3 separate regions of the Homo sapiens genome follow, and regions 1 and 2 are each linked to region 3. Evidence: fine-mapped expression QTL. A gene starts in region 3. Each other region holds a variant in brackets. All regions are shown on one strand. Distances are between the middles of the regions.

Region 1 (2,763 bases), 61 kb after region 3:
TTTGCTTTTATTTTTTGTAGAGGGGTCTCCTTATGTTGCCCACGCTGCTCTAGAACTCCTGGCTTCATGCAGTCCTCTTGCCTTGGCCTCCCAATGTGCTGGGATTACAGGCATAAGCCACCATGCCCAACCTTTAATAATTATTTAATGTGTTTGGGAATTTGGAGGAAAAGGATTACCAAAAGTTTGCCAAATCTCCAGTATCCTTTGAACAGAAAAAAATAGTAATTGTATGTAGAAAACTAAGCAATTTGGCCAGTGATGAAGGGGATTAGCAATTACTAATGTCAGAAAAAGCAGAAGGTTATACAAGAAAGAAGATATGATGACAAGATCCTATTTGGTTCAGTGGTGAATAATATTTAATAGTGACAAAAATGTAAACACTGACTTTTGGCTTAACTAAGTTGTTTTTTTTTTTTTTTTTGAGATGGAGTCTCACTCTGTTGCCCAGGCTGGAGTGCAGTGGCACAATCTCGGCTCACTGCAACCTCCGCCTCCTGGGTTCAAGCAATTCTCCTGCCTCAGTCCCCTGGGTGGCTGGGACTACAGGTGCATGCCACCATGCCCAGCTAATTTTTGTATTTTTAGTAGAGACAGGGTTTCACCACGTTAGCCAGGATGGTCTTGATCTCCTGACCTCGTGATCCGCCCACCTCGGCCTCCCAAAGTGCTGGGATTACAGGCATGAGCCACTGCGCCTGGACAAGTAAGCAATTTATATAACTGTATTGGAAAAATGAAGAGAGGGAAATAGGAAGGGTTAGAGTTGGATAAGAAATCAAAGGCTTCAACAATTTCCTTCCTAGGATCATACTCTATACATATTTTTGACACATATGCAAAGATTTATGTACAAAGATTTATGTACAACAATTTATGTACAAAGATTTCCATCATTGAATAAGAAATAGCAAAAACAGAGATGACTTAAATATCTATGAATTGGAGACTCTAAAACAGATTATGTTTGAATGAAATACAGTTTTTGTGGGGTGTTTTTGAGATGGAGTCTCACTCTGTCGCCCAGTGCAGAGATGTGATCTCAGCTCACTGCAACCTCCGCCTCCAGAATTCAAGCAAATCTCCTGCCTCAGCCTCCCGAGTAGCTGGGATTATAGGCACGTGCCACCACACCTGGGTAATATTTGTATTTTTAGTAGAGACAGGGTTTCACCATGTTGGTCAGGCTGGTCTCGAACTCCTGACCTCAATTCATCCACCCGCCTCAGCCTCCGAAAGTGCTGGAATTACAGGTGTGAGCCACCGTACCCAGCCTATTTTAATTTTTTTTTTTTTTTTTTGAGACAAGGCATTGCTCTGTTGCCCAGGCTGGAGTGCAATGGCACAATCTCGGCTCACTGCAACCTCTGCCTCCTGGGTTCAAGCCATTCTCCTGCCTTAGCCTCCCAAGTAGCTGGGACTACAGGCGCAAGCCACCATGCCCAGCTAGTTTTTGTATTTTTAGTAGAGAAGGGGTTTCACCATGTAGGTCAGGGTGGTCTCAAACTCCTGACCTCAAGTGATCCACCTGCCTTGGCCTCCCAAAGTGCTGGGATTACAGACATAAGCCACCGC[G/A]CCCAGCCCGCATTTGTTTTAAAGCCATCCCCAATATATGCTGACGTGATCTCTGGATACTGAAAATAAAACAAGACAAAATACACAAACAGAAACAAAGTGGAGACTAATGGGTCCATATACTACCACCTGTGAGTATTTTAATGCATGTATCAATATACACATACACATTCACAAACATTGAGTCTTATGTATATACAGACTATCTGAAAAAATACACAAGAAACTGCCTGTAGCAATCGACTTTGTGGAGGGGAATTATGGTTAAGAGGGCAGAGATAGATAGGGAATTGATGTAGTTTGGATGTTTGCCCTCTCCAAACCTCATGTTGAATATGCTCCCCAGGGCCGGGCACGGTGGCTCACGTTTGTAATCCCAGCACTTTGGGAGGCCGAGGCGGGCGGATCACAAGGTCAGGAGTTTGAGACCAGCCTGACCAACATGGTAAAACTCTGTTTCTACTAAAAATACAAAAATCAGCTAGGCGAACTACGGGTGCCTGTAATCCCAGCTACTAGGGAGACTGAGGCAGGAGAATCACTTGAACCCAGGAAGCTGAGGTTGCAGTGAGCCCAGATCACGCCACTGCACTCAGCCTGGGCAACAGAGTGAGACTCTGTTGAAAGAAAGAAAGAGAGAGAGAGAGAGACAGAGACAGAGAGAGAGAGAGAGAACTCCCCACTGTTGGAGGTGGGACCTGGTGGGAGGTGTTTGGGTCATGGGGGCAGATCCCCCTTGCCATCCTCATGGTAATGAGGAAGTTCTTGCTCCGTTCACGCTCTGTTCATTCACATGAGAGCTGGTTGTTTAAAGGAGATTGGCACCTCCTCTCTCTATCTCTCTCTCCTGCTCTCTCTCTTGCCATGTAACATACCAGCTCCCTCTTTGCCTTCTTTCATGAGTGGAAGCTTCCTGAGGCCTCACGAGAAGCAGATGCCAGCACTATGCTTCATGTACAGCCTGAGAACCATGAACCAAATAAACCTCTGTTCTTTATAAATTACCCAGCCTTAGGTATTCTTGTATAGCAACACAAATGAAGTAATACAGGGACCTACTCTTCACTGTATATAATTTTGTCACTTAAAAATTTTATGCTAGTGAATATATTACTTATATAATAAATACATGAATATTCACTATTAATATTATTCATGAATAATATAGTAATTATTGATTCAAAT
Region 2 (2,763 bases), 31 kb after region 3:
AAGCATTGGGGATTGTTAGAGAGCCCTTTCCCAGAAAGCCTGACACCCATGTCTTTAGTCCGGCAACCACGCTAGTCGCTTTTAACTGGCTGACAGGTGCCTGGTATTTAGCCCCCAAATTCTAAGGAAAAATAGGACAGAATAGCAAGTGAAAGAGGCCCAATGCTGCTTACTGCTTGGCGATAGTCCCTTCATGGTTGCCAAAATGTGTCTGGAATTGGTTCCTTCTGGTGGGTTCTTGGTCTTGCTGACTTCAAGAATGAAGCCTTGGACCCTCGTGGTGAGTGTTACAGTTCTTAAAGATGGTGTGTCTGGAGTTTGTTCCTTCTGATGTTCAGACGGAACATCTATCCCCCTACAGCTTGAAGGGGAAGGGTGCATTCTACTTCTAACCGCTGTTTGCAATTGGGTAAATAAAGTCATTAGTTGTTCATCTGTATGAAATCATAACTAAGCATTTTCAATTAACTGTGTGGAATAAACCACGTATGAAGAATGAGAAATCACATTAATAGGCATATCAAAAGCAGTCAATATCTTAATTACCACCACAAGCTCTGCTTTTTGAGCTGAAGTATCGGGCGTCTGGAAAACTTTACCTTTTGATCCAGAATAAGAAGCTTTACCATTACTAGACACATCTGTGAAACGATGAAAATGCTTAGCAGGCTGCAGGTTGTTTACTGCAGGAATTGTAAATGTAAACCATTCACAGTCTTGCTCAGCTAAAGGGATAGTAAAGAAACAGTCTTTTAAATCTATGACTATTAAAGACCAATTTTTTGGAATTATACCAGAAGAAGGCAATCCTGGCTGTAATGCTCCCATAGGTTGTATAACTGAATTGATGGCTCTTAAGTCAGTTAGCATTCTCCATTTACCTGATTTTTTCTTAATTATGAAAACTGGAGAATTCCAAGGAGAAAATGTTGGAATTATGTGCCCATTTTCTAATTGTTCATTAACAAATGTCTCTAAAGCCTCCAGTTTCTCTTTACTTAGCGGCCATTGTTCTAACCAAATTGGCTTATTGGCTAACCATTTTAAAAGTATAGGTTCTGGAGGCTTAACAATGGCTGCCATCAAAAATTATTTCCTAATCTTTGGCAGGAACTTGGTCTTTCCATTTGAAGTGGTTTTTTCAAAACTTGCAAATTTTTTTCTAGTCCCATACCAGGGACATGCCCCATTTCATGCATCATATGTTGACTTTGAGGGCTATATAATTGTTCTGGAATTAGAACTTGTGCTCCCCATTGTTGTAATAAATTTATTCCCC[C/A]AAAATTTATAGGTACAGAAGTTATAATTGGTTGAATAGTCCCAGATTGTCCATTGGGCCCTTCACAATGCAAAATATAACTACTTTAATATACTTCAGCAGCTTTATCAACTCCAAATATGTTAAATTGAGCAGGTTGAATTGGCCACGCGGACGGCCAGTGCTGTAGAGAAATGATTGACATGTCTGCTCCTGTATCTGTCAAACCTTTAAATTTCTTTCCTTGAATAGTTATTTCACAGGTAGGACATTTATCAGTAATTTGATTTACCCAATAAGCTGCTTTGCCTTGTTTATTTGTGCTTCCAAATCCTCCTGTTCATTTAGTTTCATTTTTTCCCATTCTCATATATGGCACAATCAGGAGCTGTGCTATGCACTCTCCTGGCTCTGCTTTCCAGGGAACAGAAGTAGATATAATAATTTGAATTTCCCCATTGTAATCTGAATCAATGACTCCTGTATGTATTTGTACCCCTTTTAAACCTAAACTAGACCTTCCTAAAAGTAATCCTATTGTCCCCGCTGGCAAGTGTCCACAGACTCCTGTTGGGACCTTTTGCAGGGGTTCCCCAGGTAGAAGGCTCACAGCTTTTGTGCAGCATAAATCTACTGTGGCACTACCGGCTGTGGCAGGGGACAGACATTGTACAGGGGTAAGGGAATGGCCTGAGCCGGAAATGCCCCGGTTTAGAACAGGGCCCAGGACGGACCCCTCATGGCATTTCCCGAAATCAGGGTCCCATCTTTGTCAAACTTAGAGTGACACTGATTAGCCCAATATTTCCCTTTTTTACATTTTGGACATATTTCAGGATCAGCAGTTTTCCTTTTTCCCCATCTGGCTGCCTGACTCACTGATTTTTTTCTACATTCTTTTTTAGTATGACCATGCTTCCCATAGTTAAAACAAGCTCCAGGAAATGGAGTATTTCCTTTATCCACTCTCAGTCCTGCCATTTCCTGTGCCAACAAAGTAGCTTTATGCAGATTACCTCTGATACCATCACAGGCCTTGATGTAATCAACTAAATGTGCTTTCCCTCTGACAGGTTGCAGAGCAGCCTGGCAATCGGCATTAGCATTGTCAAAAGCTAATAACTGCAACACTATAACCTGAGCAGCCGAATCTGCAATCATCTTTTTAAGAGACTCCTGTAACTGAGCTATAAAATCAACATATGGTTCTCTTGGTCCGTTTTATAGCACTAAAGGAAGGGTAATGTTCTCCACCTATAGTGATTTTTTCCCAAGCTCTAATGCACACTCCTCTAAGCTGTTCTATGGCATCATCCTGCATGACCAGTTGCGCATCTAAACCAGCCCAGCCGCCAACCCCCAAAAGTTGGTCTACAGTTACATTAATTTGATGTTGGGCCTGGGCATTGCAAGCAGCCTGAATGGAAGCTTCATCTGCCCACCAAGTTTTAAATTGTAAGAACTGACCAGGAGTTAGACAAGCTTGAGTAACAGCATCCCAGTCA
Region 3 (2,763 bases):
GTAAATTGTATCTCTAGTATATCTAAGGAGTGTCTTTGAAAAACAAATATGCCCAAGAACCTAAAACTTCAACACATTTGGGATAAATTGTCACATTTCTTTCAATATTTAATACAAAACTCTCTTAACATTGTGAACCTAAGAAGCTGCTGCTGCTGCTGCTGCTGCTGCTGCTGCTGCTACCAAGTGGCATCTACTGAGCCCTCATTACGTGCTAGGCACAAGACTACCTGTATCGCTGTATTAACTCATTGATTCTTCAATTAACCATAGGAGGTCTACACTGTTATTATATCCAACTTGCAAATGGAGAAACTGGGTTCCTAAGGACTGACCAAGTTAGGCACGTCAGACAATCAGTGCCAAAGCCAAGTTTCAAGTCCCGGCAGATTACTTCAACGCAGGGGCTTTCAACACTTGAGCAACTAGCAAAGGGCCTACAGGGCAGCAGAGGGTATGGGCTGGGTGTATTCTACCTGGACACCCCCTGACAAAGACCTGGGACCTGGGTGTCCTCTCAAAGCAGGGCAAGGCCCTGAAAAAAACAGCTGGCAGGTGTGTCAGGCCAGGACAGCAGGAGGGAAGCCTGTCGCGAAGGTCACTGCCAGTTTCGGGCAGAGCAAAGGTCAGATCCCAGACAAATCACACGGAGAACAAGCAGCAGCAAAGTCCCGGCTTTCCTCAGGGCACGGGAAGCGCTGGGAAAGGGAGCTGGGCGTCCAGGGTCCCCGATTCCCGCCGGGAGTGGGTGATGCGGAAAGGAACTCTGCGGTGCGACGGAAGGGAGGCAGCGACGCCACCGAGCAGCGAGACGGAGCCGCGAGAGCACCCCAGAAGAGGGGGGCGAGAGGCAGGCCTCCGGGGTGTGGGCCCGGCGCGCAGAAGGCACTGGAACCAGAGACTCGGCCCAGAGAGCCAGGCGCCACCCACCGGGGACCCCGGCCCGCGCCGGCGATCGCGCCCGCACGGCGCCCTACCTGCTCCGGGCCCGCGCCGACACGCTCAGCGACCGGCTCGCCTCCGCGCTCCCGCCCGGCCCCCGGTTCCTCAGCAGGCCGCTGGATCCAGCGCGGGACCCAGCGTGGTGCAGCCACCGGCCGGCCGGGCCGCCGAGGACAGCAGAAGCGGCGCGCAGCAGCCGGGCGCCCCCAGCGGCAGCCATCGCCCGCGGTCGGGAACTGCCGGAAGCGACGCAGGCCGCGCTTTGAGGCCGCGAGAGACTCCAAAGAGGCGGGGGCGGCAGCTGCGGCGCAGACGCCCGAGGGCCGCGGCGAGGGGCGCGGGGCTGGAGTGGCGGAGAGACCCTGCTGGAAGCACCGCGCCGAGGTTCCGCGTGCCTTCCGGGTGACCTATAAAGACATTGGCAAGCAGAGCGCGGCCCCGCCCCGCCTCTCACGCCCACGCCGCCCGGTCCCATGGGGCGGGGCCAGCGCAGGGGGCCTTTACCAACCCTCCAGGTTCCGTTGTAAGCTGGATGCTTTTTTAGCGGCTGAAGTTGCCGTGCAGAAACAAAATATTTTGAAAGATAGCTGGACGTCTAGCGGAAATCGGTTAGCTAGACCACTGTGTTCTGTTCCGCATACCCCCATCCCCTAGCCGTTAAAAAAAAAACTGGGAAATTGTGTCATCTTGGAGTCAAGTTAGAGCAAAGTGAATTCTGCCCACTGTAAAACAAAAACAGTGGGAAATTTTGGAAAATCTCAGAATGCTATTATACAAAGAAATAATTATGACTATAAAATTGTAAATGAAATTAATGAATAGGCTTGGGGCTCCTGCAGAGGACAGGTAGCCATCCTAGACCTTGACTGGCAAGTAAATGCTGGCTGAGTACATGAAACCCACGAGACTGAACCGGAAACTTTGTGATGAGCTGAGATCTCTAAAAGACTTTCACAAAAAACAGAAAAGATGAACTTTAAAATACACCTTATCATGGTTCATATGTTGTGGGAAATGCATGGGCTTTAAGGTCAGAAATAGCAATGTTCAGATCCAAGATCTACTGCTTTAGAGATCTGAGACCTTGGAAAAATTATTCTCATGGAGGATCAGAGTTTCCATAACTCTCAAACACAGATAAGATGTTCCAGCCTTCAGGGCCATTCTGATGTTAATCTAATACGCAATGCACACCGTGCGTCACAAACCAGGAAGGCTACCGCTTCCTGGGCCTTCCTCCATCAGGGTACTCATAAAGAGGCTAAAGGCCAAAGTCAAGGGGATATTGCAGATATGCTAAACACAATCAGATACTTTTTTTTTCTTTTTTTGACATGGGGTCTCTCTATTCTGCCCAGGCTGTAGTGCAGTGGCGAAATCTCGGCTCACTGCAACCTCCGCCTCCCAGGTTCAAGTGATTCTCCTGCCTCAGCCTCCCGAGTAGCTAGGACTACAGGCGTGTGCCACCACACGCCACTAATTTTTGAAGATTCAGAACAAGAAAGTGTAAGCATGAGTAAAGTATCTGCGGACAATGTATGGTGCTTTCTGGAACCCAATGGCAGAGAGAAGGCAGTGGCTCCTAATTGCCTCAAATCGTTGGATGAAGAGAAAGTCTTTCAAGCTGCGAAGGGCACAGCAAACCCTGACAAGTAATCTTGAAGAGGAGGTTGTAAAAGAACAGCTAACTTTTGTTTTTAGTAAGACCAAACTTCCAAGGTCGGATGAATTAGTTGTAGGAAGAGAATTGAAAAGAAAAAAAATCGTAGATGTTCTGTCTTCTCTCAGCCCTCCTGTAGCAAATACAGTTTCAACTCCCTT

What was found.
Region 1: its variant is fine-mapped to the expression of FDX1 in lung (TOPMed, PIP 0.91).
Region 2: its variant is fine-mapped to the expression of FDX1 in whole blood (INTERVAL, PIP 0.93).

The regions. Positions count from the first base shown.
Region 1 is chr11:110,367,911-110,370,673 of GRCh38, reverse strand. All of the region lies in intron 2 of LINC02732 (long intergenic non-protein coding RNA 2732), which reads right to left. Among named protein-coding and RNA genes, the nearest start is that of LINC02732, 14 kb to the right of the region's middle. The variant G/A (reference allele first, on the strand shown) is at 1,579.
Region 2 is chr11:110,397,397-110,400,159 of GRCh38, reverse strand. All of the region lies in intron 3 of LINC02732 (long intergenic non-protein coding RNA 2732), which reads right to left. Among named protein-coding and RNA genes, the nearest start is that of FDX1, 31 kb to the left of the region's middle. The variant C/A (reference allele first, on the strand shown) is at 1,280.
Region 3 is chr11:110,428,520-110,431,282 of GRCh38, reverse strand. FDX1 (ferredoxin 1) reads right to left here and starts at 1,335. Exons shown (of 4, transcript NM_004109.5): 1 at 978-1,335. The coding sequence starts at 1,162. RefSeq lists an enhancer at 522-801 and a silencer at 872-1,521.